Homo sapiens: one gene and its partners. The protein of the gene in region 3 purifies or fractionates together with the protein of the main gene of each other region. This does not show direct contact. Each region holds a gene or a part of one and is shown on either strand. Other genes may lie near its edges.

Region 1 (3,043 bases), on a different chromosome or scaffold from region 3:
CATGGAGATACTGCATATCTCAACACTCTGCCGCCTCCCCATGCTCCTGTATGGTTCTTTCTAAACTGTTATGGTCAATGAGATTATCAAACTCATTGGACTCAGGCCATTAGAAAGCTTTAAAGCATTCTATTTTGAGTAAAGTGTATGAGTTTAATGCATGAAATTTTTTGATGACATTAGTTTGGCTCCTTAGAAGCTTCTCCCCTCTCCCTCAGTACTCTTGTGTGTGGTGGAGGTGACGTTTCCAGTAAGTGAGCTAGTGCAGATGCTCCTTGACTTTATGGTGGGATTATGTCCCAACAAACCCATTATAAGTTAAAAATATTGTTAAAGTTGAAAAACATACTTTCAACTTAATATTTTCAACTTACTATGAGTTTATTGAGACTAACCTCAGGATAAGCCAAGGAGCGTGCTGAATGCGTATTGCTTTCACACTGTCATAAAGTCAAAAAGTCTTGTCAAACCATCGTAAGTAGGGGACTGTCTGTACCACACTACTTTTACATAGCCTTAGGACCTAGCTCAGCATGAGGAACACATTTAACTGAATTAACTCAAATAGTTAATTGAATTAGAGATGGGCTACATATGGTTAATATGAAGCCACAAGAGGATGTGAAGGAAAATATGGAAGGAGGACAGTAAATGAATCGTGGGAGTGGTGTTATCATTTCCCACTTAGATAAGCTCTTAGGAAAGAGGCAGTGGGTGGGAAGGTTGGGCTTTAGTGAGATCACTTGGGCCAAGGGAGCAGAAGGGCCATGTTTTTGCTTTTGGTCTTTTCGTAATATATTTTTAACTCCTTTTGTTTTGCACTAGGTTTGGAGATTGACAGGCCATGGCCTAATTCATTCATTTAAAAGTGAACATGCTAAGCAGTCCATATTTCGAAACATTGGGGCTGGAGTCATGCAGATTGACATCATCCAGGGCAATCGGCTCTTCTCCTGTGGTGCAGATGGCACGCTGAAAACCAGGGTTTTGCCCAATGCTTTTAACATCCCTAACAGAATTCTTGACATTCTATAAAGATTGGGGTTTTATTTTTATATACATTTCAGTTAAAAGGCACACTACAGTCATCACTAGGCAATTCTGCTTTCTAAGCAGTTGTATTGAAAACAGAGAATCTCTGTGTAGAATTTGAATATGACCCAAGCTGAGTATTATCTAAACAGGTTGGTGGAATGAATGCGCATGTACCTTATTATGCTGACATACTAAAAAAAATAAAACCTAGTATTGTATGAAGGATAGCTATTCTTTACAGCATTTAGCAAACCTGATTCAGAAAACATTTGAGATTAGCAAATTAGTAACTTGAAATAATGAAAAGGACGTTTATACCAAATTAAGGAAGAAAATGTTGCTGATTTGGGTTTTTCTTCCTGTTCTTACCACTGACTGAAGCATGCCTGCAGTCTCCTCCTCTGTTGAATGAAGGATAATCATAAGGTGTTTGTTAGGAGCGCTAGACCACCTGGAAAACTTTCTTAGCTGTGGAGCAGTGCGCAGTGACCAGTTCTCTGCTGTGAGAGGCCGTTTCCATTCTTTCCTGCTGAATATTTTTCCTGTTAGTGTTTATACTGAGCTAGTACTGTAACTTGCAAATGAGTGCAAATTTAAATGCAATGTTTTACTCACAATTTGCACATTCACATTTTTTGGACTGCTAGTTTTTCTATTTAAATATTTGCCTTCATGTTAGGAATGTACTATGTGAACATGACATATTTGTAGTTAACCAAACACACCTTCTTAGTCCAGTTTAGTACTTTTTCTTTTCGTGTATTCAAGGTTAAACACCCAAACATTTAAGGATATGTTGAAACTACACCAATAGAGCATTTCATATCATAATTAAAATGAATGTTAGGCTTCTTGTGGCCAGTTAATAGTTGATGAGATTGGTGACATTATTTATTGCCACAGCCTATTGTATAAACTATGCAGAGTTAAATATTTGCTTGTAAAATATTAGCCAATGTTGTCATTATTTTGATGTATTTCCTTGGTTATGACCAAAAATATGTTGAGATACTGAAACTAATGTCTGTGTGTTTAAATGTTTACCAGCAAATTGTCTTATCATGTTAATGAGAATGTTCAATGCCTGTGTGGTAAATAGTAAATACAATGGCATAAAAGTAACTTTCTCTGAAGATGTGATGTTCAGGCTGTGAAATATATATGTAAAAGAAAAATAAATGTTATTTGTTAGAGTTTTTAGTTTGATACTGTTTTTGACCATTGAGATTTTTAATTTGATAAAATGTTTAACTGTTAGAGAATTTGCAAGCTATTTGGCAGTCTATTCATTCATAAGTAAGTATTTACTGAATACCTTCTATACCAAAAGCCATTCTAGGAAATGGGATACAGTGGAGAGCCAGACAGAGAAAGCACACAATGTTGAGATTTAGCGGGGCAAGAGCTAACCTCACTATACCTTCTCCAGACAGATTTGAAGTTTATTGAATGAAGTACTAACCTCGTACCCAAAACTCAAATCTGAGTCTTGGCTATTTGCTTGCTCCTAAGTAAGTAAGGGAAGTCAGAATATGCCCACTGATAAGAAGAGCCAGGAAAATAAGCTTGTGAGTGACATCTCAATGCCTAAAGCAAAACTGATTCAAAGGAGCTTTCAGAAAAAAGGGAAGAGAACTTTCTCTGTCAGGTAAAAGCAGTAAGAGACTCTAGATTCACCTTCTAGCTTGAAACAACTAAAAGAAAGAAGACGACAAAATATATAAACAATGGTTCTCAAGACATTAAGCATCAGGTAGGGAGGGACAGTGATTCCTGAGAGGTGAGCATTTTAATTGTCCCAACTTACCACCTCAAGAAAGTTTCCAGGCCACAGGCAGGGAGAGAACCCAGGCAGAGCCTAATGGTTTCTCCAAGTTGCCAAGATGATAGAACTGCGAGTCTGGGGAATATAATGAGGATAGAGTTCGCAGGCCAAAGGCCACAGAGGGGCACAGGGAGAGGTACACAGAAGGTCTGTATTAGTCCATTCTCACACTGCTATAAGGAC
Region 2 (4,302 bases), on a different chromosome or scaffold from region 3:
CAGTGATTCTTAAGATTTAATTGTTAAGAGACTTTGGAAAGCAATGTTAACTTTGAAGATTTGATAGTACTACAATATAAAAATCTCTAACCTTCATTTTGAAAGTGCGTATGTTAATGCTTATTTCTTCTAAGCTTTGACAAAGCAGTTGTGCTTGTGAATAGGGCATCAATATTCTGGCTTCCTCTGGTTCCGAACAATTAAGTGTTGTTTTTCTTGTAATCTTAATTCTTGTTTTGTGATTACGAGTGTTAGTGTCAGTAATCTTTGGGCTAAAGAACACCCTTATCTTTTAATCAGATATTTTAGTATCCAAAGTCACATCTGCTTTTGTTTTGTTCTTTTATTTCGTTTTACAGATTTGAACCTTCTGAAAACCTATGTTTAATACTGGACTTAGTAGGAACATATTCATACTTTATTTTTTGAAAGCATTATATATGACAGTTGTAATTATGACAGGCTGATATTAACTGTTTTCTTATCTAACCTCTTAGAAGCTGCAGTTCATCATCTGCTGTGATAGTTCCACAACCAGAGGATCCAGACAGAGCCAATACTTCAGAAAGACAAAAAACGGGGCAGGTGCCTAAGAAAGACAATTCTCGAGGAGTGAAGCGCAGTGCTAGTCCAGACTACAACAGGACCAATTCTCCTAGCTCTGCAAAAAAACCAAAAGCACTTCAGCATACTGAATCTCCCTCAGAAACAAATAAGCCACATAGTAAGTCAAAGAAGAGACATTTAGACCAGGAGCAACAACTGAAATCTGCACAATCACCATCAACAAGCAAGGCTCATACCAGGAAGAGTGGGGCCACTGGCGGTTCACGGAGTCAGAAAAGAAAAAGGACAGAGAGTTCTTGTGTAAAGAGTGGCTCCGGGTCTGAATCAACTGGTGCAGAAGAGAGATCTGCGAAACCTACCAAGCTGGCTTCAAAATCAGCCACCTCAGCCAAAGCTGGGTGTAGCACCATCACTGATTCTTCTTCTGCTGCCTCTACTTCCTCCTCGTCTTCTGCTGTAGCCTCGGCCTCCTCCACTGTACCACCAGGTGCCAGAGTGAAACAAGGAAAAGATCAGAACAAGGCCAGGCGTTCCCGTTCAGCGTCCAGTCCCAGCCCCAGAAGAAGTAGCAGGGAAAAGGAACAGAGTAAAACTGGTGGCTCTTCAAAATTTGATTGGGCTGCTCGTTTCAGCCCTAAAGTTAGCCTTCCTAAAACAAAACTGTCTCTTCCAGGGTCTTCTAAGTCAGAGACATCAAAACCTGGACCTTCTGGATTACAGGCCAAATTAGCAAGTAAGTTTACAAAAAGGTATTTTTCTTTAATTAAAGAAAGTTTCTCTTGGTTTGTCAAAAGCAATTATGCTTTAAAGTTAAGGGTTTTTTCCCCCCAGTCTTAGATAATCTTAGATGTATTACTGTCTGTGTAATTAAGTACATAACAGCATGTAGTAAGTGCTACTACATTTAGTTTTGTTGAGACAGGTAAGGAATACTACCTTCCTATTATTACGAAACCATCACATTTTAGTGTCTGTGTCTTTATTGGTCCTCGCGGCATCTCCTACTTCACTGATTTCCTAATATCAGGATGGGACATAAAGTTGGATTTTCTTCTATACCACATACAAAATTATCATTTAGTTAGGAGTTCTTTTTAGTTATGAGTTGCCATGATCAGAGATCAAATATATATATGTTTTTTTAGATGGAGTCTCACTCTGTCGCCTAGGCTGGAGTGCAGTGGCGCAGTCTCGGCTCACTGCAACCTCCGCCTCCTGGGCTTAAGCAATCCTCTTGCCTTGGCCTCCAGAGTAACTGGGATTACAAGTGTGCACACCATGCCTGGGTAATTTTTGTGTTTTTAGTAGAGATGGGGTTTCACTGTGTTGGCCACGTTGGTCTCAAACTTCTGACCTCAAGTGATCTGCTCACCTCGGCCTCCCAAAGTGTGGGGATTACAGGTGTGAGCTACCATGCCTGGCCAAATATATTTTTTTATATGAGATATTCTTGATGTGTAGATACAGTGAATTAAGTTATTACTATAAATATACCTCAATGTAAATTAAACTTTTTCATATGTAATATCTCACAGTCTTTTAAGGAGTTTTGTCTAAAGATGAATACTACTTATGTTTCACTACTCTTATATACACTACTCTGTGTCCTAAGTGAGTAAGAATATTGCTCTCTAAAAGTTTACAGTGGAGTAGAAAGAATTTGTGTTTTGAGAATACATTCAAGCAAAGAAACAGAAAGTAGATGGAAGAAACATAGCGTTATGTGCATTCCTTCATGAGTCAGTTTTGGAGATATCCAGGAACTCTTCTCCCTCTCTCTTTACCAAAAGACTTCTTCAGGGAACCAGCTGCTCATCTGGGGAATGCTAGTGTCTTTCTTTTCTTTCCTCCCTTCTTTTTTTTTTTTGAGACAGAGTCTCACTCTGTTGCCCAGGATGGAGTAGTGGTGTGAGTGGTACGATCTTGGCTCACTGCAACCTCCACCTCCTGGGTTCAAGCAATTCTCCTGTCTCAGCCTCTCCTGAGTAGCTGAGATTACAAGTGTGCGCCATCACACCCAGCTAATTTTTGTATTTTTAGTAGAGAGGGAGTTTCACCATGTTGGTCAGGCTGGTCTTGAACTGGGACAAGTGATCCACCTGTCCCAGCCTCCCAAAGTGTTGGGATTATAAGTGTGAGCCACTGTGCCCAGGCTTCTTTCCTTATTTCTATTTCAGAAACCTATAAAGGACAAATAGGATAATAAAGCACTTATCTCTACAATTTTTAAAAGCATTTTAATTTTATAATACCTAATTAGGAAGCTTGCTTTTAAGCATCTTTTCTTCTCTGATGGATTTTAGATCTACATTTGGGTAGGGCTATAATGTTTTCTTGGTTTAAAAAGATTGTATATAGTGTCTACTAGCATTCTTGTCAAAGTATAGCTCATATTGAATCAGCCTAACTTAAAATTGAATCAGAACTATTAGCTCTGTTTAATTTAACACTGCAGTCTAAAACTACTTTTGGTTGATTCACATATTACCTGAAATGACAATACTATTAATAGTAGGTACTATATAAAAAATTTTATGTTTAACCTGTATGATAGGTTATTGTGAAGTAACATATTTTACTTTTAGATTGAACTTTGTTCTGTTTTGGTATTTTAAATATGCAGAACATCTGTATAAAATGTTTTAAGTTTAAAGGATTAAGATAGGCTAGATCAGTATCTTGAAGTGAGAAGGAAAAAAAGGTCCAAGTTAAAAGGACAACCAACTATTTGTCCTTCCAATGCTTTATTGATAATTGGAGTTACATATGTCAGCTTTTATGCTGCCTTTCCTCCCTGTGTTTTGTGTCTGTCAGTCCTGCTATGTAATATTCACAGCCAGTGAGCCAGGTTGAGTTTACAGCAAGCTGCTTAGGATTCACTTCCCCTTCTGCCTTCCAGTCTGCCTCACTTGAAGAACTCATCTCTTATGTGTAGGAGGGTTCTAGGGCCAGGCAATAGCAGATTGTACTTGAGTGTCATGGCCTTGGTCCTTTGTAGAGATCAGCTTTCTTTTCTTTATATAGTCTGTTAACTTGATTTTTAAAAGAAAACCCAACTCTACCAGTGGCTAATCAGTGGGATTTTCTCCTTGGTGTTTCAATCAGGAAACACCAAGAGTTTTGGCAGTGTCATTTTGCTGCTGGTTTGATAAAACCAATCCAGATAATTCCATTAAGCCTGCTCAGCACATAGTCACAAACTAATTTAGTATTTTAAAACTCATTTCACCATTATTTCATTCACTTGCACAGTATCTGTGTTCTGTTGTCACTATTAAATCACTTTTCCGTTTTCACTGCCACTATCCCAGTTCTGATCTCTCATCGTAGCCTAAGCTGTTGAAACAAGAGAATGGAACCAGCGTTTGTGTAGCATAAAATAAGTACCAGGTATTTTACATATGCAGTTACATATTCTTTTAAAAAAAATGGTGCTTTAGGATACACTTTTTTTTTTTTTTTTCTGAGACAGAGTCTTGCTGTATTACCCAGGCTGGAGTGTGTGTAGTGGCGCAGTTGGCTCACCGCAACCTCTACCTCCCAGGTTCGGGCAATTCTCGTGCCTCAGCCTCCCAAGTAGCTGGGATTACAGGCGCATGCCACCATGCTTGGCTAATTTTTGTATTTAAGAGACAGGGTTTCGCCATATTGACCAGGCTGGTCTCGAACTCCCGACTTCAGGTGATCTGCCCGCCTCAGCCTTCCAAAGTGCTGGGATTACAGGCCTGAGCCACC
Region 3 (4,302 bases):
TACAGAATTTTGTTTCACATTGTTTTAATGCATTAAATAATGATTTTTTTTTTTTCGCAATAGGAAGTATACAATTTGAGAGAGGTTAGGAAGTCCAAAAAGGCTGGGTAAAGCAAAAAGACATTCCATAGGGAGCCAAGAGAAGTTACTAGACTTTGGTTTTCTCACCTAAAAATCAGATTCCAGCCGGGCGCAGTGGCTCACGCCTGTAATCCCAGCACTTTGGGAGGCCGAGGCGGGTGGATCACGAGGTCAGGAGTTCAAGACCAGCCTGGCCAAGATGGTGAAACCCCGTCTGTACTAAAAATACAAAAATTAGCCAGGCGTGGTGGTGGGTGCTTGTAATCCCAGCTACTCGGGAGGCTGTGGCAGGGAATTGCCTGAACCCACGAGGCGGAGGTTGCAGTGAGCTGAGATCCCACCACTGCACTCCAGCCTGGGCGAGAGGGCAAGACTCCGTCTCAAAAACAAACAAACAATAAAAATTGTTTTTCTTTCCTCGACTTCTCTTACCTACATCACAGATATGTACAGGATAAAATAGAGTAAAATAGTTTGAGAGTACTTCATCATCTGAAATTGAAGTTGGGTAGTTACCACTATTTTCAAGTCTTTAAAAGTAGAATTTTCATGAAAAGGAGTCTCTTCAAATATCTGCAGTGAAATATTAAAATATAGTTTATTATTTAGGTAACATTATTTTGAAGTAATCATCATAATCTCATCAGTTTGTGTTTATAAAATCAGAGATGATAAGCACTCTAGAAAATAAGAGAGGTAGAATTGTTTCTGATATTTTTATTTTACAGTCATCTGGCAGTGATGTCCATGTAATTCTCTACAATTTTTAAATGTATGTTTCTTTTTTTGGAGGCAGCATTGAATGAGGGTTCTGAAATAGGATTTGAGTTTAATAAAATTCGATGGAATGGTATGGAATAATGTAGCCATAGGATGAAATACTATCAGCCATTAAAACTGACTTTATGTAGAAAATGTCACAATTAAGTAAGTGAAAATTTGTAGAATATTAGGTAAGTAACTGATTTTTTTAAGTAGGTAAGTCTGGAAAGTTATAGATACTTAAATGTTAACAGGCATGCTTATTCTTAGGCAGTTGATTAACAGCAGGGTTTTCTTTTTTTGTAGTTCTATGGATTTAACAGTGAGCATATATTATTTCTGTAATGGGAGAAAAAGAAAACTGGGAGGGTATACCTGTATGGCAGTAGCATCTTTTAGTTGCAGCACCCTGGTTGATATTTCTTCATTTCTATTTTTTATTTTTCAAATGTTCTGTGTTGAGAATATATGTTACTTTTAATTATTAAAAACCTAACAAGCTTTGCTAAAAATTAAGTGGTTGGAATATGACTACATTTTTTTTTTTTTAAAGACAAGGTTTTGCTCTATTGTCCAGGCTGGAGTGCAGTGGTGAGATCATAGCTCAGTGTAGCCTCTAACTCCTGGGCTTAAGGGATCCTCCCACCTCAGCCTCCTGAGTAGCTAGGACTACAGGCACACACCACCACACCTGGCTAATTTTAAATTTTTTTTTATAAAGATGGGGTCTTGCTGTGTTGCCCAGGCTGGTCTCAAACTCCTGGTCTCAAGCAGTCCTCCCACCTTGGCCTCTCAGAGTGCTTGGGATGCATGTGTGAGCCATGATGCTGGGCTGACTGCATTTTTAAAAACTACTTTCATAATTACTTTAAAAATTAATATGCCCTCATTGTGGAGAATTATAGAAATAAGAAAGAGTAAAATAAGTTTAAAATCAATACATAATTGTACCATACCTTGAATAATCTTTTTAGGAATCATTTTTAAATTTATTTAGTCTGTAATTAGATTAACTAGGTTTGAATCACAGCTCTGTCACTTAATTGTTGAATGTCCTTGGGCAAGTTCCTTAATCACTGTGCGCCTTAGTTTTCATATCTGTACAATGAGGGTAATGATACCTACTTCGTGAGAGGGTTAAATATATATATGTAAAGTACATAAAACTGCCTGCCACATGGTAAGTGCTCCATAAGTGTGATCTACCATTATTGTGCTATACTATATAAATTTGTATCATGCCTTTTAAAATTAACATTATTGGCCAGGTACAGTGGCTCATGCTTATAATTCCAGCATCTTGGGTGGCTGAGGCAGGAGGATGGCTTGAGCCCAGGAGTTCAAGATCAGCCTGGCAACATGGCAAGAACCTGTTTCTACAAAAAAAATTTTAAAAATTAGCCAGGCATGGTGGCACGAGCTTGTAGTCCCAGCTAGCTGCCTGGGAGGCTGAGGTGGGAGAATCGTTTGAACCCAGGCGTTTGAGGCTGCAGTGAGCTATGATTGCACCACTACATTCCAGCCAGGGCAACAGAGTGACACCCTATCTCAAAAAAAAAAAAAAAGAAAGAAAAATAAACAAATAAAAGTAAAATTAACATTATTACATAAGCTTTTCCTCATTTTATTATAACATCTTTGTTGTATTTAATGAACTGTGATAAATGTAATGAACTGTGGCATTTCATCATGTGACTGTACCATAATTTACTTAACCATTCTCTTCTTATTGGACATTTGCAGTATCACCAAACTAAAACTTCCATCTGGTTGTAGAAAAATTTTAATCATGTTTTAAACTTGAGAGATAATTCACATTTATTTGACCCTTAACCTTAACTGCAGTACTAAACCAGAACCACCCATCTGTAAGAAAGAATCTCATATAGTGAGAACTTATTATAGCAAACACCCTGAATTAGACTTATAATTAAAACAAAAATCAGTGTGCTGTTGTTGCATTTTATACAGAGAAATACTAGAATAGGAAATCATTGTTTTAGTCTCAGAAGTTCATTTTAAAATCTCAATGAAATTTTATTTTCACAGATGGTTGGTAAAGGCTTTTTCCTAGTTCAGACAAAGGAAGTGTCCATGAAAGCTGAGGATGCTCAAAGGGTTTTTCGGGAAAAAGCACCTGACTTCCTTCCTCTTCTGAACAAAGGTACCTTCTGGATGATTGGTATACTTTTGTGGATATTTTCTTTACATGCTGATTTGATTTACTTTTGCCTTTAACATTTGTTTTACATTGCCTTCTCTTTCTCATTTGTTCTTTGTTTTTTTTCTATTATTGTTCTGAAATGTCAAAATTTCACATCACTCAAGGAGCCCTAGACAACTAACTAGAAATTAGGCATTCTTTTTTTTTCCCTATCCTCTGTTCTTAGTACTGAAAGTCACATTTTATTATGTATCTTATTATCATTTTAATTGTTGTATTATTGTTGTACCTTTATAGTGTAGTGATAAATATTTCATGCTCCCTGCTCAGAGTTGCAAAGCACTTGATGAAGATTCTTTCTACCTTCAGTGTGCTTTAATCATACTGGAAAAGAAATAAGAAATATAAAGTGGTATACTATTTTATGTATTTAATATGATTGATTAACTTCCATGTATAATTAGAATTGTTTTCCCTAGTGGGTAAATGCCACCAATAAATTTCAGATACTGGATATAGGTCTTCAAAGAGAGGAACTTGAGTATGTGTGCCCACTTGAAGGGTTACTGTCTGCCTACCTGTATTTGAAGGTGTATTGATTCTAGAGGACAGAGTACTCTTTATCTGTTCAGAGTGGGGCCATTGTTTGCTCAAGGCTCATCAGGCTTTCCTTGACTGGCCTGAGCAAATATGTATAGTAATACGCAGTGTTGATTGGGTATTCCCTAGAGAGAGGGCACATCTGCATTTTATGTGCTCTTTATGTATAAAAATATTATAATAAACTGCAAAAATCTGTATGCAAATGTTAGAGGAATGTTAGGATAATAAGTAATGCTGGGTGTAACTCAGCTGGTAAGTATTAATGCAGTATTTGATAATACTTCTGTGGTTACTGTAGTGGTAGCAAGGACTTGCTGTGACCCACTGCATGAATCTACCCCAGAATATATGTAGGAAATTCTGACCTGGCCCCTTTGATGCAACCATTTTGACATGGGAACATTTGGAAGCTTGAAAATGAATGTTTAACTTCTTAGCAGCTTTTGGAAATTGAATCAGGTAATAAGTGTATTGGACATCCTAAAGTGTGAGAGTTAGGAATAAAGTGAGCATATCGGTAGAGCTAAATTAATGATTTATGTACCTGTGTGATGTTAGTGAAGTCGTATTGTAGAATTGCTCCAACCCAAATATAATATCTGCATTTAAGTAACAGAACATTCCACATGGAAGAAGTAAAATGTTCTATTGCTGCAAAAAGTAGAACTAAAACCAATAAGCAGATGTTGCAG
Region 4 (4,302 bases), on a different chromosome or scaffold from region 3:
TCATTTCTGTCTCTAGAAAGTTGCTTTAACTTCTCTGCCTCTACGTGTCTCTTGACATTCAGATATGAGGTGGGGTAGAGGTGGTGACCAACTTTCCAGACGCCTGAGTCCAAACCTTCTTAGCTTATGGTTTTCTTAGGTGATGTGCAAATCAACAAATATATACTTTTTTTTTTTTTTTTTTGAGTTGGAGTTGCACTCTATCACCCAGGCTGGAGTGCAGTGGCATGATCGTGGCTCACTGCAACCTCCTCCTCCCGGGTTCAAGTGATTCTCGCACCTCAGCCTCCTGAGTAGCTGGGATTACAGGTGCCCGCCACTACGCCCGGCTAATTTTTGTATTTTTAGTAGAGATAAGGTTTCACTATATTGACCAGGCTGGTCTCAAACTCCTGACCTCAAGAGATCTGCCCACCTCAGCCTCCCAAAGTGCTGGGATTACAGGCGTGAACCACCTTGCCTGGCCAACATATATATACCTTTTGCAACTTTGTCAGAGTTGCTATGAAGAATAAGTTGTATCTTGTTCACAGAAATTGCAGTCTACTGGGGGAGCTGATAAATGTTTTAACCATCCAATGTAACATGTTGTCATCAAAGAGATGGTGAGACTTTACACTTGTGCTAACAAGGTAGCTGTTCTACATAAAAGAACATACAGTACAGATGTAGAACTTTTCTGTTATCATAGAACGTTCTATTGGACAGTGCTAGGCTGAATGCTACAGATCTTCAGAGAAAGGAGAGGTTATGAGGCCTGGAGTTGTCTAGAAAGTCTTTTTGCCAAAGAGGGATTTCAACTGGGTCCCAAATAATGGGTGGAATTTGATAGGTGTAAAGAATTTGCGGTGGTTTATGCCTGTAATCCCAGCACTTTGGGAGGCTGAGGCAGGAGGATTGCTTGAGCCCAGGAGTTTGAGACCAGCTTGGGCAACGTGGTAAAACTCCCTCTCCCCTAAAAATAAAAAAAATTAGCCAGGCCTGGTGGCGTGGACCTGTAGTCCCAGCTACTGGTGAGACTAAGGTGGGAGGATCACCCAAGCCCCGGGGGTTAAGGCTGCAGTGAGCCGTGATCCCGCCACCGCACTCCAGCCTGGGTGACAGAGTGAGACCCTGTCTCCAAAAAAAAAAAAAATTCCTGGTAGCCCGGTAGACTAGGAGGGTAAGTAGGGGAGAAGTGATTACTTACAAAAGACATTGAATACAGGACCAAGGAATTTCAGTTCTGTTCTTTTGTAGGGGAAGCTTTTAAAACTTTCGGGGCGCCGGGCGCGGTGGCTCACGCCTGTAATCCCAGCACTTTGGGAGGCCCAGACGCGCGGATCACGAGGCCAGGAGATCGAGACCATCCTGGCTAACACGGTGAAACCCCATCTCTACTAAAAATACAAAAAAAAGTAGCCGGGCGTTGTGGCGGGCGTCTGTAGTCCCAGCTACTCGGGAGGCTGAGGCAGGAGAAGAGCGTGAACTCGGGAGGCGGAGCTTGCAGTGAGCCGATATCGCACCACTGCACTCCAGCCTGGGCGACAGAGCGAGACTCCGTCTCAAAAAAAAAAAAAATAAATAAATAAATAAATAAATAAAACTTTGGAGCCGAAGCACTGATGTTTAATCATAGAGTGCTTACTATGTGTTAGGCACAGGCCTGATTGCCTGATGCTGGTTAATTTGTACAAAGTAAATCAGTGCATATGCCCTCTGCCCTAGGGGAGTTATTAACTGGAGTCTGACATTGTACAAAGGTAGGTATCCTGACTAGTTTGATTTGGTACTTTGGGTGAAAAAAGTATAGTGTGCTTAAGTGCAGAAGTGTTTTTTGAGGATTTTTGATTGGATACAAACCACCACTCATATTTTATGTCTTTGGCACTTAAAAATTTCACCATAACTTTTGAGTCATTTATAAAAACCACTGAAAGAGTACTTGAGGGACATCCCCGAATCCTGAAGAACTTCTGGTGTTCTGGAGCAGCCTCAGTGAGATCCAGGAGGATGGCATTGCTGGGCTGGCCCAGCCCTTATTGATTATGGTGTAAAGAATTAATATGGTGGTTATATACTCTTTGTTAGACACCTTGGCTTACAAGACGTAAGCGTAAAGTGTAGTGCGCTTTAGTCAGTATGGCCACATGGTCCTTTGGTGGTAAATTGTTTGAGATGCCTCCAGTTTTTAAAAGGAGTAGCATATCGGGCCAGGAGCAGTGGCTCATGCCTATAATCCCAGCACTTTGGAAGGCCGAGGCAAGAGGATTGCTTGAGCCCAGGAGTTCAAGACCAGCCTGGGCAACATAGTGAGACCACTTTGTTTCTTTAAAAAAAAAAAAAAGGCAAAAACAGGCTGGGCATGGTGGCTGATGCCTGTAATCCCAGCGCTTTGTGAGGCAGAGGTGAGCGGATCACTTGAGGTCAGGAGTTTGAGACCAGCCTGGCCAACATGGTAAAACCCCGTCTCTACTAAAAATACAAAAATTAGCCAGGTGTGGTGGCACACGCCTGTAGTTCCAGCTACTCTGGAGGCTGAGCCAGGAGAATTGCTTGAACCTGGGAGGTGGAGGCTGCAGTGAGCCAAGATCCTGCCACTGCACTCCAGACTGGGGGACAGAGTGAGACATTCTGACAGTGCTACACTGAATGCTACATGTCTTCAGAGGAAGGAGAGGTTATGAGGCCTGGGAATAACATATGGAAGAATGAATTTCTGTTATGGTCAGTTCTCATTTGTCATGTTAGGATTACTGCAACTCTTACCCAGCCGGGTGTGGTGGCTCATGCCTGTAATTCCAGCACTTTGGGAGGCTGTGGGCGGATCACGAGGTCAGGAGATCGAGACCATCCTGGCTAACACGGTGAAACTCCGCCTCTACTAAAAATACAAAAAATTAGCCCAGCGTGGTGGCAGACGCCTGTAGTCCCAGCTACTCAGGAGGCTGAGGCAGGAGAATGGCATGAGTCCTGGAGGCGGAGCTTGCAGTGAGCTGAGATCGTGCCACTGCACTCCAGCCTGGGCAACAGAGTGGGACTCCATCTCAAAAAAAAAAGAAAAAAAAAAGGATTACCGCAACTCTTTAATTCAGATCAGCAAACATGTTGAGAGCCAGGTATTGCGTCAGGCAGGATCCAAGGATAATGAAATATTGTCCGTTTTCATGAAACTGGAGATGTTGCAGGGACCGAGGTGTGTGCTATGCCAGTATGGAAGTAGGACAGGGGAGACGACAGGGCAGTGAGTGGTTCAAGACTCTGGCTCTGAAGTCAAACAGATCTGGGACTGAATCCTGGATCTGCCACTTCCTAGTCAGAATCTGAGCCTCTATTTTCTTATCTGTAAAAGAAGATTATAACAGTGCTTATCTTGTAGGTACTGTTGACGATTCAATAAGATAATGTGGATAAAATGCTTAGCATAGTGCCTGGCACATAGTAAGAGCTCGGTAAATCTAAGTTCTTACTAAATATCCAAGAAAAGAGATTAATTCTTTTCAGGAGTGAGAGAAAGTCATCATTATTGAGGGGCTTTATCAGATGGGAACACCTGAATAGGGTTTTATAGGATGAATAGGAATTCTTTCCACGAAGTTGCGTTACAAAAAGTTGCATTCAAGGCTGAAGGAACATGAGGGTGCAGAGGCTTAAAACAGCCTTGTGTGTTCAGGGAGCTATAAGTAGAAGTTCTTAATTTAGGAGAACTAAACCAAGGGGAAAGGAGGCCAAGGAACCACAGTTCTTATCCCTTTTCTGTTAATAATTGGGTTTAAATGTCATTAAAATAAGTTATTTTGTCCTTTTTAGAAAAGTAATAACATGCTATTATAAAAAAAAAGACTTGTAGGAATATAAAATGTGTGTTTTACATGTATCCTGTTAATTGACTTGCTTTTATTCAGATTTTTTGCAGCCCTTTCTGTTTACCAGGTTATCTTGGAGACATATTTATTCCAAATTCCTTTTTTTTTTTTTTTTTGAGATGGAGTCTCGCTCTGTCGCCCAGGCTGGAGTGCAGTGGCGCTATCTTGGCTCATTGCAAGCTCCGCCTCCCGGGTTCACGCCACTCTCCTGCCTCAGCCTCCCGAGTAGCTGGGACTACAGGCGCCCGCCACCACGCCCAGCTAATGTTTTTTTTTTTATATTTTTAGTAGCGACAGGGTTTCACCGTGTTAGCCAGGATGGTCTCAATCTCCTCACATTGTGATCCGCCTGCCTCGGCCTCCCAAAGTGCTGGGATTACAGGCGTGAGCCAGCACGCCTGGCCTTCCAAATTCCTTTTAACAGCCTAGCAAAAGAATAATAAGGAAGGTAAATCTG
Region 5 (3,953 bases), on a different chromosome or scaffold from region 3:
GCCTTGCACTGTGGGGCTCCAGGGGTTCCTTTCAGGCCCAGGAACCAAGGGGAGAATTGAGATCTCAGAGCTGTTTGGAGTGGGGTGAGTAGGCCTCCAGGGAGAACTGAGGCATTGGTGTGGCTAGTAATGTGGGCCAGCCCTACAGTCTCATGCCAGCACAGGGCTCAGAGATCAGGCGCACTCACCCTCAGCAATGGCGCCCAGCACCAGGATGCCCGACTCCTTGACCACCCACTCGGGGTGGAAGAGGAGGCCTTTGAGTAGTGGGAGTAGGTGGGGCAGCAGTTCCTCCCGGAAGACATTGGCGAGGACGTCCAGTGCAGCCGCTGAGCACTTCCCTGGGGAAGGGGGAACAATGGGGAGGCTCAGGGCGGCCCCTCAGGCAGGTGGCCGACCCTCCTTGACTGCACTCCCAGGATCAGAGATCATGCTCAGAATCTTCACGATCAGCTTCTTTTTTTTTGTTTTGTTTTTTTGAGACGGAGTCTCACTTTTTCCGCCCAGGCCGGAGTGCAGTGGCGCTATCTCGGCTCACTGCAAGCTCCGCCTCCTGGGTTCATGCCGTTTTCCTGCCTCAGCCTCCCGAGTAGCTGGGACTACAGGCGCCCGACACCACGCCCGACTAATTTTTTGTATTTTTAGTAGAGACGGGGTTTCACTGTGTTAGCCAGGATGGTGTTGATCTCCTGACCTCGTGATCCGCCCGCCTCAGCCTTCCAAAGTGCTGGGATTACAGGCGTAAGCCACTGCGCCCGGCCACGATCAGCTTCTAATCAGCTTCTGCCTCAGCTTCTAGTCACCTCCCAAGAGGGAGTCCAGGGCTTGCCACCCCACCACCACCCCCAGGCAGGGGCACACACTCAAATTCCAGTCGGACAGAGCATCATCATCATCGTCATCCTCCGCGTCCTCGGAGCCATCAGGCCGCTCAGCCTCGTGGGGCAGTGTGACCGTGCGTGACTTGTGGAAGCGTGGCTTGATGTCCTGCTCACTGTCGGGGACAGCCTCATCCTCCTCCACATCCCCCTGGGGGACAGGCAGACTGTTAAGTACTTTGGGGACCACAGCCGCGACACCCACGCCCATGCCCACCCATGCTGGGTGGGCCCTGCCTGACCTTGAGCAGGATGATGTCAATTTCCGAGTACTTCATCCCATTCACCAAGATGGGGATCAACCTGCACAGAGAGGGACTGTTTATGGGGATGCAGGGGCCGTGGCAAAAGTTGGGGGGAGGCACAGCTTGGGGAGGAGGCAAACAGGTGCCAACAGAGTGACCAGCCCCCCAATCAGCCACAGAGCAGACCCTGCAGAGCATGATGGTACTGCTAGGTGCAAATTGATCCATTTCCCTCTGGGGAATTATCGGAATCTAGTCTCTGCCGCTATGATTAGGATATAAATGATACCACTCCTGCCTCCAGAGAAAGGTTTTTTTTTTTTTTTCTTAAGAAGCAGGGTCTAACCCTGTGGGCGGCAAGCCACCCAGGCACCGAGGCAAGAGACAGAGGACACGAGCTGTTCCAGTATAATAAAATATAAAACAAGAATAGTTATACCAGATATAGATCTTAGATATGATTATATATGAATATCATTAATCATTAGTTTGTAGCAATTACTTTTTATTCCAATATTATGATAATCCTCGCTCTATAATCATAGCCTAGGAAAAACCAGGCCATACAGAGATAGGAGCTGAGGGGACATAGTGAGGTGTGACCAGAAGACAAGAGTGCGAGCCTTCTGTTATGCCCGGACAGGGCCACCAGAGGGCTCCTTGGTCTAGCGGTGACGCCAGCATCTGGGAAGACGCCCGTTACCAGGCGGATCATGGTCCAGCGGTAGCAAAAGGTGTCAAGGAACAACACCCGCTACTTAGCAGACCAGGAAAGTGGGGGAGTCTCCCTTTCCCCGGGGGAGTTTAGAGAAGACTCTGCTCCTCCACCTCTTGTGGAGGGCCTGACATCAGTCAGGTTTGCCCGCAGTTATCCGGAGGCCTAACCGTCTCCCTGAGATGCTGTGCTTCAGTGGTCACACTCCTAGTCTGCCTTCATGTTCCATCCTGTACACCTGGCTCTGCCTTCCAGATAGCAGTAGTAAATTAGTGAAAATACTAATAGTCCCTGATATGCAGAAATAATGGCATACGCTGTCTTTCTCTTTGTCTACTCTCCCTCTCTGCCTCGGCTGCCAGGCAGGGAAGGGCCCCCTGTCCAGTGGACACGTGACCCATGTGACCTTACCTATCATTGGAGGTGACTCACATTCTTTACCCTGCCCCTTCTGCCTTGTATGCAATAAATAACAGCGCAGCCAGACATTTGGGGTCACTACCGGTCTCCGCGCATTGGTGGTAGTGGTCCCCCGGGCCCAGCTGCCTTTTCTATTATCTCTTTGTCTTGTGTCTTTATTTCTACACTCTCTCATCGCCGCACACAGGAAGAGACCCACCGACCCTGTGGGGCTGGTCCCTACGTAACCCTATCACCCAGGCTGGAGTGCACTGGTGCGATCACAGCTCACCACAGCCTCATGCTCCTGGGCTCATGCAATCCTCCTGCCTCAGCCTCCCAAAGTGCTAGGATTATAGGCGTGAGCCATGGCACTCAGCCTGCAGGAAAGCTCTTGACCCAGGCCTGGCCACTCAGTGGATTATAGACCCCTGAATACACTGAAAATCTTGGTACAGTGCCTGGTCCCTAGCACAACATTAAGGCAGGGACATGCGGTCCTATTCCTGGCCACTTTCCTGAGATAGGGCAGAGACTAGCCAGAGTAGGGGAGCAAACAGACTAGGCAGCCAGCCCCTCAGCTGCAGCCCAGAGTTGTAAGTGACAGAGCCTTCATCACCTGCTCATCTAGGTCTCATCACTCCCCAGGAGCCGTCTGCCCAGCCCTAGACTGTTATCAATAATTTGGGGCCGGGCACAGGGGCTCACACCTGTCATTATAGCACTTTGGGAGACCAATGCAGGAGGATTGCCTGAGCCCATAAGTTTGAGACCAATTGGGACAATATAGTGAGACCTCACCTCTAATGAATGATAAATAAATAAATAAATAAATAAATAAATAAATAAACATACAATATGCTGGGCGTGGTGACTCACGCCTGTAATCCTAGCACTTTGGGAGGCCAAAGTGGGCAGAACACAAGGTCAGGAAGCTGAGGCAAGAGAATCGCTTGAACCCGAGGGGCGGAGGTTGCAGTGAGCCGAGATTGTGCCACTGCCCTCCAGCCTGGGCAGCAGAGTGAGACTCCGTCTCAAAAACAGAAATTTCAAAATAATAATAATAATGATCTGGGGGCTGGGTACAGTGGCTCGCACCTGTAATCTCAACACTTTAGGAGACCAAGACAGGAGGACTGCTTGAGGCCAGGGATCCGAGACCAGCCAGAGCAACTTAGCAAGACCTCATCTCTACTAAAACTTAGAAAAGATTAGCTAGGTGTGGTGGGATGTGCCTGTAATCCCAGCTACTTGGGAGGCTGAGGTAGGAGGATTGCTTCAGCTGGGAGGTCAAGGCTGCAGTGAGCCATGATTTTGACACTCCACTCCAGCGTGGATGACAGAGCAAAACCTTGTCTCAAAATAAAAAAGAAAAAAATGATTTGGAGAGAGGCAAGCAATCCAAGTTTGTCAAGGAGGGTCAGTTTTAGGACTTTTGTTGGAAACACTGGTCGAAAATTTCTTTACTCTGAAGTTCCTAAGCTGGAAGGGCACAGAAGGCTACAGCACTACCCAGAGGGAAGGTTGTGCCTAAGAATGAAGCCAACACAAGGGAAGCAGATCTGAGACCACAAAGATGCCTTTCACATCCTTTGAGCTCCTGGATACAGCCATACCCCTGAAGCCTTTGTTGATTTTTCATTTCTTTTTTTTTTTTTTTTGAGACGGAGTTTTGCTCTGTCACCCAGGCTGGAGTGCAGTGGCACGACCTTGGCT
Region 6 (4,059 bases), on a different chromosome or scaffold from region 3:
GTCAGCAGTGACCACATCTATCCGCAGGGATCCACGGGGAAGCTGGTGTGCGCCGGATAAAGGTAGGTGGTCCCTCTGGCACAGGCCGCCCTAAGGCCAAGGCCCCCCAGATGCAGCTCATTCCTGGCTCCCTCTGACAGATGGCAACCGCCGATGAGATTGTGAAACTCATGCTCGACCACATGACAAACACCACCAACGCGTCCCATGTGCCTGTGCAGCCCGGTGGGTAGCCTCTCGCCCGCGTCTCCCAACCCCTCCTAAACCTCTGGGGAGGAGACGCCCAGAGGGTCTCACCTGGGGTGTCATGTCTACCCGCAGGCTCCTCAGTTGTGATGATGGTCAACAACCTGGGTGGCCTGTCATTCCTGGAACTGGGCATCATAGCCGACGCTACCGTCCGCTCCCTGGGTGAGCCATGCACTGGGAAGGGGATCCTACAGCCCTTTGGAAAGGGCTGAGGGAGGGTCTTGTGATGGCAGAGAACACGGACTGTGCGTCAGATAAGCCTGAGTTAAATCGTCTCTCTGCCACCTAATTGCCGGATACCTTGAGCCTCTGTTTGTTTTCTTGTCTGCAAATTGGGGGTAATAATAATGGTACCTGCTTTATACCGTTGTTTTGAGGATTAAGTGAGATTAAACATATGTAAGACACTCAACACAGCGCCCAGCACCTGGCACGAACTGAGTAAATGAGACCTGTAATTACTCATCTTCCCCGACGTAGGGGACACCTCCAGGGAACGTGGTCATTTGTGGGGTTATTGAGGGATGCCTGCCAGGAGGAAATCAGGACATCTCCCTCCCGACCTCAGAGCCCCAGCTTCCAAGGTCCTTGCTTTTCTGTTGTTTTCTTTCCCTGATGCCCATTTTTCCCTTTTGGACTGCCACACTCTGGTATTGCAGAGGGCCGCGGGGTGAAGATTGCCCGTGCCCTGGTGGGCACCTTCATGTCAGCACTGGAGATGCCTGGCATTTCTCTCACCCTCCTGCTGGTGGATGAGCCTCTCCTGAAACTGATAGGTGAGACTTGGAACCTGGGGTCACCCAAGCCAGGGCTCCTTGTAACTGGAAGGAGCCAGGGAGACTTGGAGACCCCGTCAGGGCTGACCGTGACAATCAGGGCTCTGGAGCCTGTGAAGAAGGCTCTTCCTGGGCTTCTCCAGCCTTCTCCAGCTCTCACTGGACTAGAAGGAGTTGGTATTAGGATCCTCCTCAGAGAGGCCTGACCCTTTCCCAGGGACCCTCTCTCCATACCCCTGTATACAGTAGGCACTCAGTCCATGCTTGTCGAGGTGGACTCCCTTCCTCCAGGGCTGCTGAGAAAGCCAGGCCACCAGGGTCAGGATGGGAGGGTCCAAGCCCTGCTGAATCCCTGGCTGGACAGCCGTGTCTAAGAGAGTTATCTTGCTGCCCTTAGATGCTGAAACCACTGCAGCAGCCTGGCCTAACGTGGCTGCAGTCTCCATTACTGGGCGGAAGCGGAGCCGGGTAGCCCCTGCCGAGCCCCAGGAGGCCCCTGATTCCACTGCTGCAGGAGGTACCAACCCCTGCCTTTGGGGAAGGGACAGGCTTCCCAAAGGATGCAGGAGTATACGGTGGGGCGGGTAGGGGCCCTGGCACCCACACCTCCCACCATAGTCAAGTGTGGTTGTGAGAAGGGCCTGGTGGGCCTGTTCTTCAGCATCCTCCCTTTCTAGGCTCAGCCTCGAAGCGGATGGCGCTGGTGCTGGAACGGGTGTGCAGCACTCTCCTGGGCCTGGAGGAACACCTGAATGCCCTGGACCGGGCTGCTGGTGACGGCGACTGTGGCACCACCCACAGCCGTGCGGCCAGAGGTTGGTGCCAGGGACTTTGCCAAGTGAGGTCATTCACAAAACCTTAGCCCCCCTTCCACTTGTTTCCCTGAAGGCAGGGACCTTCCTTTTTTTTTTTTTTTTTTTTTAAGAAGGAATCTCACTCTGTCGCTAGGCTGGAGTATGCAATGGTGTGATCTCGGCTCACTGCAGTCTCCGCCCCCCGGGTTCAAGTGATTTTCCTGCCTCAGCCTCCTGACTAGCTGAGATAACAGGCATGCGCCACCACGCCTGGCTAATTGTTGTGTTTTTAGTGGAGACGGGGTCTCGCCATGTTGGCCAGGCTGGTCTCTAACTCCCCACCTCAAGCCATCCGCTCGCCCTGGCCTCCCAAAGTGCTGAGATTACAGGCATGAGCCACCACACCCGGCCGACAGGGACCTTCTTAACACCACAAATGTATGAGGTTGTTATCTTAGAATTAAATGAAATCCTTCACAGTGAATAACTTACAACTCAAGGCGAACTTATTCTGTTGTCCTTATTTTTCTCAGTTTACCCAGACCAGTGAAAAGCTCTTAACTGTCCAGCATCATTCATTCGAGAAAAAGGTATTTGGTGCCTGCCGTGGGGCAGGCACTGCTCTCAGCTGTGGATACAGTAGTGAACAGAGCAGACAGAAATCACTGCCCTCATGGCTTATGTTCTAGGTGGAAGACAGTCAACCAGATAAATCAGTAAAACACAGAGGATGTTAGCACAAAGGGCTAAGGAGAAAAAAACCAAGCCAGGGAGCAGAGTACAGAGCGTCAAGTGGAGGGCTTCGGGGCAGGCCTCACCTCCCCAGGCCCCTTTCGGTTACGCAGCCCAGCCCCTCTCCAGACTGCACACTGGATGTGGAAAGGGATCTTGGGAAGCCTTCATTCCACTTCCCTGTCGGCCTTTTCCAGCCTTCATTGGTGCTGGCTGGAAGTCTGGCAGATGGAGGGAGGATCTCTGAATTCCTCCCCATCTCTCTCTGCCTGCAGCAATCCAGGAGTGGCTGAAGGAGGGCCCACCCCCTGCCAGCCCTGCCCAGCTGCTCTCCAAGTTGTCTGTCCTGCTCCTGGAGAAGATGGGAGGCTCATCTGGGGCGGTGGGTGCCTGGGGGCTGAAGGGCTGACAGGGAGGTGGCTGGGCTGGCTGGGGTCCAGGCCAGCACCACATGCTCAGCGTTGTCATCTTCCCCAGCTCTATGGCCTGTTCCTGACTGCGGCTGCACAGCCCCTGAAGGCCAAGACCAGCCTCCCAGCCTGGTCTGCTGCCATGGATGCCGGCCTGGAAGCCATGCAGAAGTGAGCCAGAGCCCTGTGCATCAGACCAGGGGTGGGCTGGGGGAGGTGTTTGGTGACATCTGCGCCCTGCCAGGCCCTAGCCCAACCCTCAGAGTGATTCCCTTGGTTCCCTATAGTGAGCCTCTTTCACTCTCTTTCCCTGCCAGGTATGGCAAGGCTGCTCCAGGGGACAGGACTATGGTATGTACTCAGGCTGTGGCCTCAGACCTTTCTCCTTTTGGCCCTGTAAGTCTAAAGAGCACCCTCGGTTGCAGGGCCCGTGCTCAGCCCCCTTTCCTTCACCTTGTCCAGCTGGATTCTCTGTGGGCAGCGGGGCAGGAGCTCCAAGCCTGGAAGAGCCCAGGAGCTGATCTGTTACAAGTCCTGACCAAAGCAGTCAAGGTGAGTGAGGCTGGGCCCAGCCACCTGGGGAGACAGGCTTCTAGCCAGCAGACTCCTGTCTCCATGTGACCCTGAGCAAGTTAATAACCTTCCTGGACCGCAGTTTCCTTCTCTGTACAATGGAGATGAGCACCTATCTCAGAAGGTGGTTATGTGGCTAAGGAAATATGTAGAGCCCCGCACACTGCCTGGGATGTGACAGGGCCTCAGTGAATGGTGACCCTTTTCCCTGCTGGAAGTAGATGAGAAGTGACTTTCCATTTGGTGACAGAGCAGAGGGTGCTGGCAGAGCCAGGGCAAGGGCGTGCAGGGCCAGGCTGCACGGCAGAGACGTTCTGCCCATGGCAGGAAGGAGGCGGCCTGGTGATCTGCCCTTGAACCTGCTCCCACACCCCATCCCCCAGAGTGCCGAAGCTGCAGCCGAGGCCACCAAGAATATGGAAGCTGGAGCCGGAAGAGCCAGTTATATCAGCTCAGCACGGCTGGAGCAGCCAGACCCCGGGGCGGTGGCAGCTGCTGCCATCCTCCGGGCCATCTTGGAGGTCT
Region 7 (4,302 bases), on a different chromosome or scaffold from region 3:
TGGTCATTTCACTTTAATAGATTTTTTTTTTAAAGTAAATGTTACAATATATACATATATTATGTTGTACACCATCGTATATGTAATTTTTGTCAAAAATACACAAAGTAAATGAGTGATGTCATTAAGAATTCTGATCTGAAGATGGAAGGATCTTTTCAGCCTAGAAGCTTGACCATCCTGGGCAATGTAGTGAGATTCTGTCTTAAAAAAGAGAGAGAATTTTGAGTTAGGAATTTGACTGTTTGCCATTGTGGCTTCTTCAAGTGTTCCTGCATTATTAGATTAAGACTGCATTTTTAGGCCGGACGTGGAGGCTAACCCCTGTAATCCCAGCATTTTGGGAGGCCAGGGCAGGCAGATAATTTGAGGTTAGGAGTTCGAGACCAGCCTGGCCAACATGGTGAAACCCCATCTCTACTAAAAATACAAAAATATTAGTTGGGCATGGTGGTGCACGCCTGTAATCCCAGCTACTAGGGAGGCTGAGGCCGGAGAATTGCTTGAACCCAGGAGGCAGATGTTGCAGTGAGCCGAGATTATCCCATTGTACTGCAGCCTGGGCAACAGAGTGAGACTTGTCTCAAAAAAAAAAAAAAAAAAAAGAAAGAAAAGAAAAAAAGACTGTCATTTTGGCAGAAATTCTATTACGATAGTGTTGTATCATGGTTACTAATCCCTTTCCTTGCTTAAGGTTTTGATGTTTGTTTACATTTCAAAATATCTGACAAAGAGTGTTTAGAGATTAGTAATTCTCAGAGGTCATCTGGGCACCTGGAAATATGGATGGGATTTCTGAGAGAAGAAAATCTGTGTTCCTGGAGAGAGAAAAGTTTAGAATAAACACAATAATGTAAATTTGGCATCTTGAATCTGCATCATTTTTGATACTTCATTTTTCAAAATAGTCTATAGTGCTTCATGTATATGCCTTAGCCTTTTTAATAAGGCCTTCATGATTTGATCTGTGTCTGTGGAATGCTCCAGCTTCCTTATGCTCCACACACATGCCTTGTGCTCCAAGCGTATACATGTTTTTCAGTTTGTTTTATGTCCCTTGCACTTTGAGATTTTCTTTCCTTGTACCAAAACTTTCTAGCTACCTGTATTTAGTACATCTTTCAATCCCTGTATTACTTATTAATCTTTCTAAACCTCTCAAATATTTTCTCTCATAAGAAGGCTTATATTTACCATTTGTACTAAATTGTTTTAAATCCTAATAAATATATTTCCCGGTATTTAAACTTTTAGGTAGATGTAGAAGAATGGTGTATATACAGCATGCAACAAGAAAGGTTGTAAAGCTGAATAATTTCCAGTATTGTTATGTAATGTGTGTTTTCATATTCATAACTTTACAGAGCTCTCAACGAAATGTGGAAGTGTCAGAACATGCTTCGGAGCCATGTACGCGAACTATTGGATTTGCACAAGCAGCCTACAGTAGGTTCATGATTTGTTTAAATTCATAGTTTATTATAGTCACTGTTCAGATTTTCTGTAGTTCTACGTAATGAAGCAGGGAAAAAGTATCTCAGTTGTTTTATTTTCCAAATGTCAGTTAAATATAATTTCTGTAGTTGTCCAAGCTAAATTTCCATTTAAAATAAATATAACAAACTCTTATTTTCTAGTGTGAGCAAAGAAATGGTGTTTTCTAGTTTATATAAAGTTTTCAGACACTAAGAGTTTATAGTTAATCAATTTTCAAATAATTAGAATTAAATTTTGAGATAAAATTACATTAAACATCATATTTCTTTTTCACTGCATGATTCATGGTCTCTCAGTGTAGAGTGAATATCAGATATCAATCCTATAAATATGCCAATGGCAAACTAAAAAAGAAATGCCATTAAATTTTTGCAAGGTTGGGGAAAAAAACTTTACATTTTTACGTGTGTTCACTAGAATAGGTGTTCTTAACCAGGGGACCATATAAACAGACCCCTCAAGGACACATGGATGCTGGAACAGGGGCGGGCAAACTTTTTTTTTTTTTTTTTTTTTTTTTTTTAATACACAGGATCTTACTCTGTTGCCCAGGCTGTCGCATAGTGGCATGATCACAGCTCACTGCAGCCTCGATGTCACTGGGCTGAGGTGATCCTCCCACCTCAGCCTTCTGAATAGCTGGGACTACGGGTGTGCTCCACCATACCCAGCTAGGTTTTGTATGTTTTTTGTAGAGGTGAGTTTTCACCATGTTTCCCAGGCTGGTCTCAAAATCTTGGGCTCATGCAGTCTGCCTGCCTAGGCCTCCCAAATTGCTAGGATTACAGGTGTGAGATACTGCACCTAGCCTAGCAAACTTTGAAAATAAATCAACAGATAGCAAAAACATATTTTGCAAGGCATAGAGTCTGTGGTCAGATATTCAACCCTGCCTTTGCAAAATTAGTCATACACGATAAATAAATGAATGGACATGACTATATTCCATCGAAACTACTAACAAAAACAGGTAGCTCATGGGGGCATAGTTTTCTAACTTTTGAACTAAATTATTCAAATTTAGTATAAATGAAAACTAATAAGTAATGTTTTATGGGATACAGGAAAGGGAAGTACGTTTTAGAAAGGAGGTTTTCCTGAAGGTATTTAAGTAACGGGCCACAAAGTAGCTAACAGAACTCTATTGCAGAAAAAAAAGTTTCTTCTCTATATTTTTAGTTAATTTTTTGTGGCATGTAGTTTCATAGTAATTCTGATATGATAAGTTTATATGTTGATTGCTTCATTGATCTTTTTTCAATCTTCTGGCAATGTAACTTTCCTGTGAAAGTTATATACTTGTGGGTTTTTAAGTACCTTCCTCCCAACATCTCCTTTCCTTCTATTTGTCTTAATAGTTGCTACTATGTAATTCTTTGTTGTTAGTTTAGCGTATATATGTGGTAAAACCATTTTCCATTGAGCAGACTGTGATGAACTTTATTTTTTAACGTCATGAAAAATGTACAGTAATGAGTATTGATTTTTGTTAGGGAAATTTGTTAACACATATGACTAGTTGTTCTTTTGTTTCTGTTTTAAATTTCAGTCAGAGGCTAACTGTTCTGCCATGTTTGGAAAACTGATGACCATAGCAAGTGAGTATGTTTATTTACTCACTAAACATGTAGTAAACGTAAATGCAGACAAAGTATTTACCCAGTGGGACTACTGATTTAATGTTAAGTAAAAGAAAATAATCTTTATCTTAATTTTGTTTCTAAGAACCAGCTAGGCTGATTTTCTTTTAGTGGCTCCGCAATATTTTGATGGCACCTGTTTTTAGCTTAGTAGAATAGTTTTTTTTTTTTCCTTCTCTAATATTGATTCTCTTTTAATTTTATAGAGAATTTGCCTGACCCCGGGAAAGCACAAGATTTTGTGAAGAAATTTAACCAGGTTCTCGGCGATGATGAGAAACTTCGGTCTCAGTTGGAGTTATTAATTAGCCCAACCTGTTCTTGCAAACAAGCAGATATTTGTGTGGTTAGTAAATCATACTTCACACTTTTTCTCTAGCTTTACTTACAGAAATATGTATTTTATTAAAGCCTGTTTTACATACAGTGATTTGTGTAAATGTAACAATATTGTGAGCTCTGAATTACTTTGGAGTATATCTATTGTCAAGTTAATTCTCTATTTACCATTCACTCTCAGCCACATTCCAGGAAAATAACTAAAGAACTAAGCCAGGGAGATTGGTCTTAGGAATTTTACAAGATAAAGTACTTTGAACTTAGTAGACATTCATTGAGTAATGATAAGTATTTTCTGAATGCTTGTGTACATGTGCATTTTCTTCTTTCATGTATTAGAATGGAAATAATCGTCAATAAATTAGTAGTAGTAACATTGCCATATATCTGGTTTCATTTACAGATAAAGTAAATTCCTATCTAGACTTTTGTCTTCATTCTTCTCTTGAACTCATTTAAAACCAATATTCTTAAAGCTATCAGGAGGGAAAACTTATGCATTCATTTATTCAGCTTTTTTTTTTTTTTTCCTGAGATAGTCTTGCTTTTGTCACCCAGGCTGGAGTTCAGTGGCACAATCATAGTTCACTACAGCGTTAAAGTCCTGTGCTCATGTGATCCTATACCCCAGCCTTCTGAATAGCTAGAACTATTGGCACACGCATCCACACCCAGCTAAGTTTTTAAATTTTTTGGAGGCCATGCACATTGGCTCACACCTGTAATCCCAGCACCTTGGGAGTCCAAGGCGTGTGGATCACCTGAGGTTGGGAGTTCGAGACCAGCCTAGCCAACTTGGTGAAACCCCATCTCTACTAAAAATACA

What was found.
Region 1: the proteins of RP2 (region 3) and DMXL2 purify together in Homo sapiens (affinity purification with mass spectrometry; 4 studies listed by BioGRID and IntAct, with this or other methods). This does not show direct contact.
Region 2: the proteins of RP2 (region 3) and TRIP12 purify together in Homo sapiens (affinity purification with mass spectrometry; 3 studies listed by BioGRID and IntAct, with this or other methods). This does not show direct contact.
Region 4: the proteins of RP2 (region 3) and STAT3 purify together in Homo sapiens (affinity purification with mass spectrometry; 3 studies listed by BioGRID and IntAct, with this or other methods). This does not show direct contact.
Region 5: the proteins of RP2 (region 3) and TNPO2 purify together in Homo sapiens (affinity purification with mass spectrometry; 3 studies listed by BioGRID and IntAct, with this or other methods). This does not show direct contact.
Region 6: the proteins of RP2 (region 3) and TKFC purify together in Homo sapiens (affinity purification with mass spectrometry; 3 studies listed by BioGRID and IntAct, with this or other methods). This does not show direct contact.
Region 7: the proteins of RP2 (region 3) and PDS5A purify together in Homo sapiens (affinity purification with mass spectrometry; 3 studies listed by BioGRID and IntAct, with this or other methods). This does not show direct contact.

Annotation. Positions count from the first base shown.
Region 1 is NC_000015.10:51,446,976-51,450,018, reverse strand, and holds the end of DMXL2 (dmX-like protein 2), read left to right. Parts: intron 1-825; coding exon 826-1,035; 3' UTR 1,036-2,228; downstream 2,229-3,043. UniProt on the Homo sapiens protein: May serve as a scaffold protein for MADD and RAB3GA on synaptic vesicles. Plays a role in the brain as a key controller of neuronal and endocrine homeostatic processes.
Region 2 is NC_000002.12:229,855,770-229,860,071, reverse strand, and holds part of TRIP12 (E3 ubiquitin-protein ligase TRIP12), read left to right. Parts: intron 1-497; coding exon 498-1,300; intron 1,301-4,302. UniProt on the Homo sapiens protein: E3 ubiquitin-protein ligase involved in ubiquitin fusion degradation (UFD) pathway and regulation of DNA repair.
Region 3 is NC_000023.11:46,857,096-46,861,397, forward strand, and holds part of RP2 (protein XRP2), read left to right. Parts: intron 1-2,892; coding exon 2,893-3,007; intron 3,008-4,302. UniProt on the Homo sapiens protein: Acts as a GTPase-activating protein (GAP) involved in trafficking between the Golgi and the ciliary membrane.
Region 4 is NC_000017.11:42,381,391-42,385,692, reverse strand, and holds part of STAT3 (signal transducer and activator of transcription 3), read left to right. Parts: intron 1-4,302. UniProt on the Homo sapiens protein: Signal transducer and transcription activator that mediates cellular responses to interleukins, KITLG/SCF, LEP and other growth factors. Once activated, recruits coactivators, such as NCOA1 or MED1, to the promoter region of the target gene.
Region 5 is NC_000019.10:12,710,433-12,714,385, forward strand, and holds part of TNPO2 (transportin-2), read right to left. Parts: intron 1,182-3,953; coding exon 1,121-1,181; intron 1,030-1,120; coding exon 864-1,029; intron 342-863; coding exon 189-341; intron 1-188. UniProt on the Homo sapiens protein: Probably functions in nuclear protein import as nuclear transport receptor. Serves as receptor for nuclear localization signals (NLS) in cargo substrates.
Region 6 is NC_000011.10:61,342,434-61,346,492, forward strand, and holds part of TKFC (triokinase/FMN cyclase), read left to right. Parts: intron 1-27; coding exon 28-62; intron 63-140; coding exon 141-225; intron 226-321; coding exon 322-411; intron 412-908; coding exon 909-1,025; intron 1,026-1,422; coding exon 1,423-1,542; intron 1,543-1,702; coding exon 1,703-1,840; intron 1,841-2,826; coding exon 2,827-2,933; intron 2,934-3,028; coding exon 3,029-3,132; intron 3,133-3,278; coding exon 3,279-3,312; intron 3,313-3,423; coding exon 3,424-3,513; intron 3,514-3,861; coding exon of another isoform or gene 3,862-3,891; exon of another isoform or gene 3,892-3,917; coding exon 3,918-4,059.
Region 7 is NC_000004.12:39,897,570-39,901,871, reverse strand, and holds part of PDS5A (sister chromatid cohesion protein PDS5 homolog A), read left to right. Parts: intron 1-1,364; coding exon 1,365-1,446; intron 1,447-3,046; coding exon 3,047-3,095; intron 3,096-3,343; coding exon 3,344-3,483; coding exon of another isoform or gene 3,484-3,516; exon of another isoform or gene 3,517-3,858; intron 3,859-4,302. UniProt on the Homo sapiens protein: Probable regulator of sister chromatid cohesion in mitosis which may stabilize cohesin complex association with chromatin. May couple sister chromatid cohesion during mitosis to DNA replication.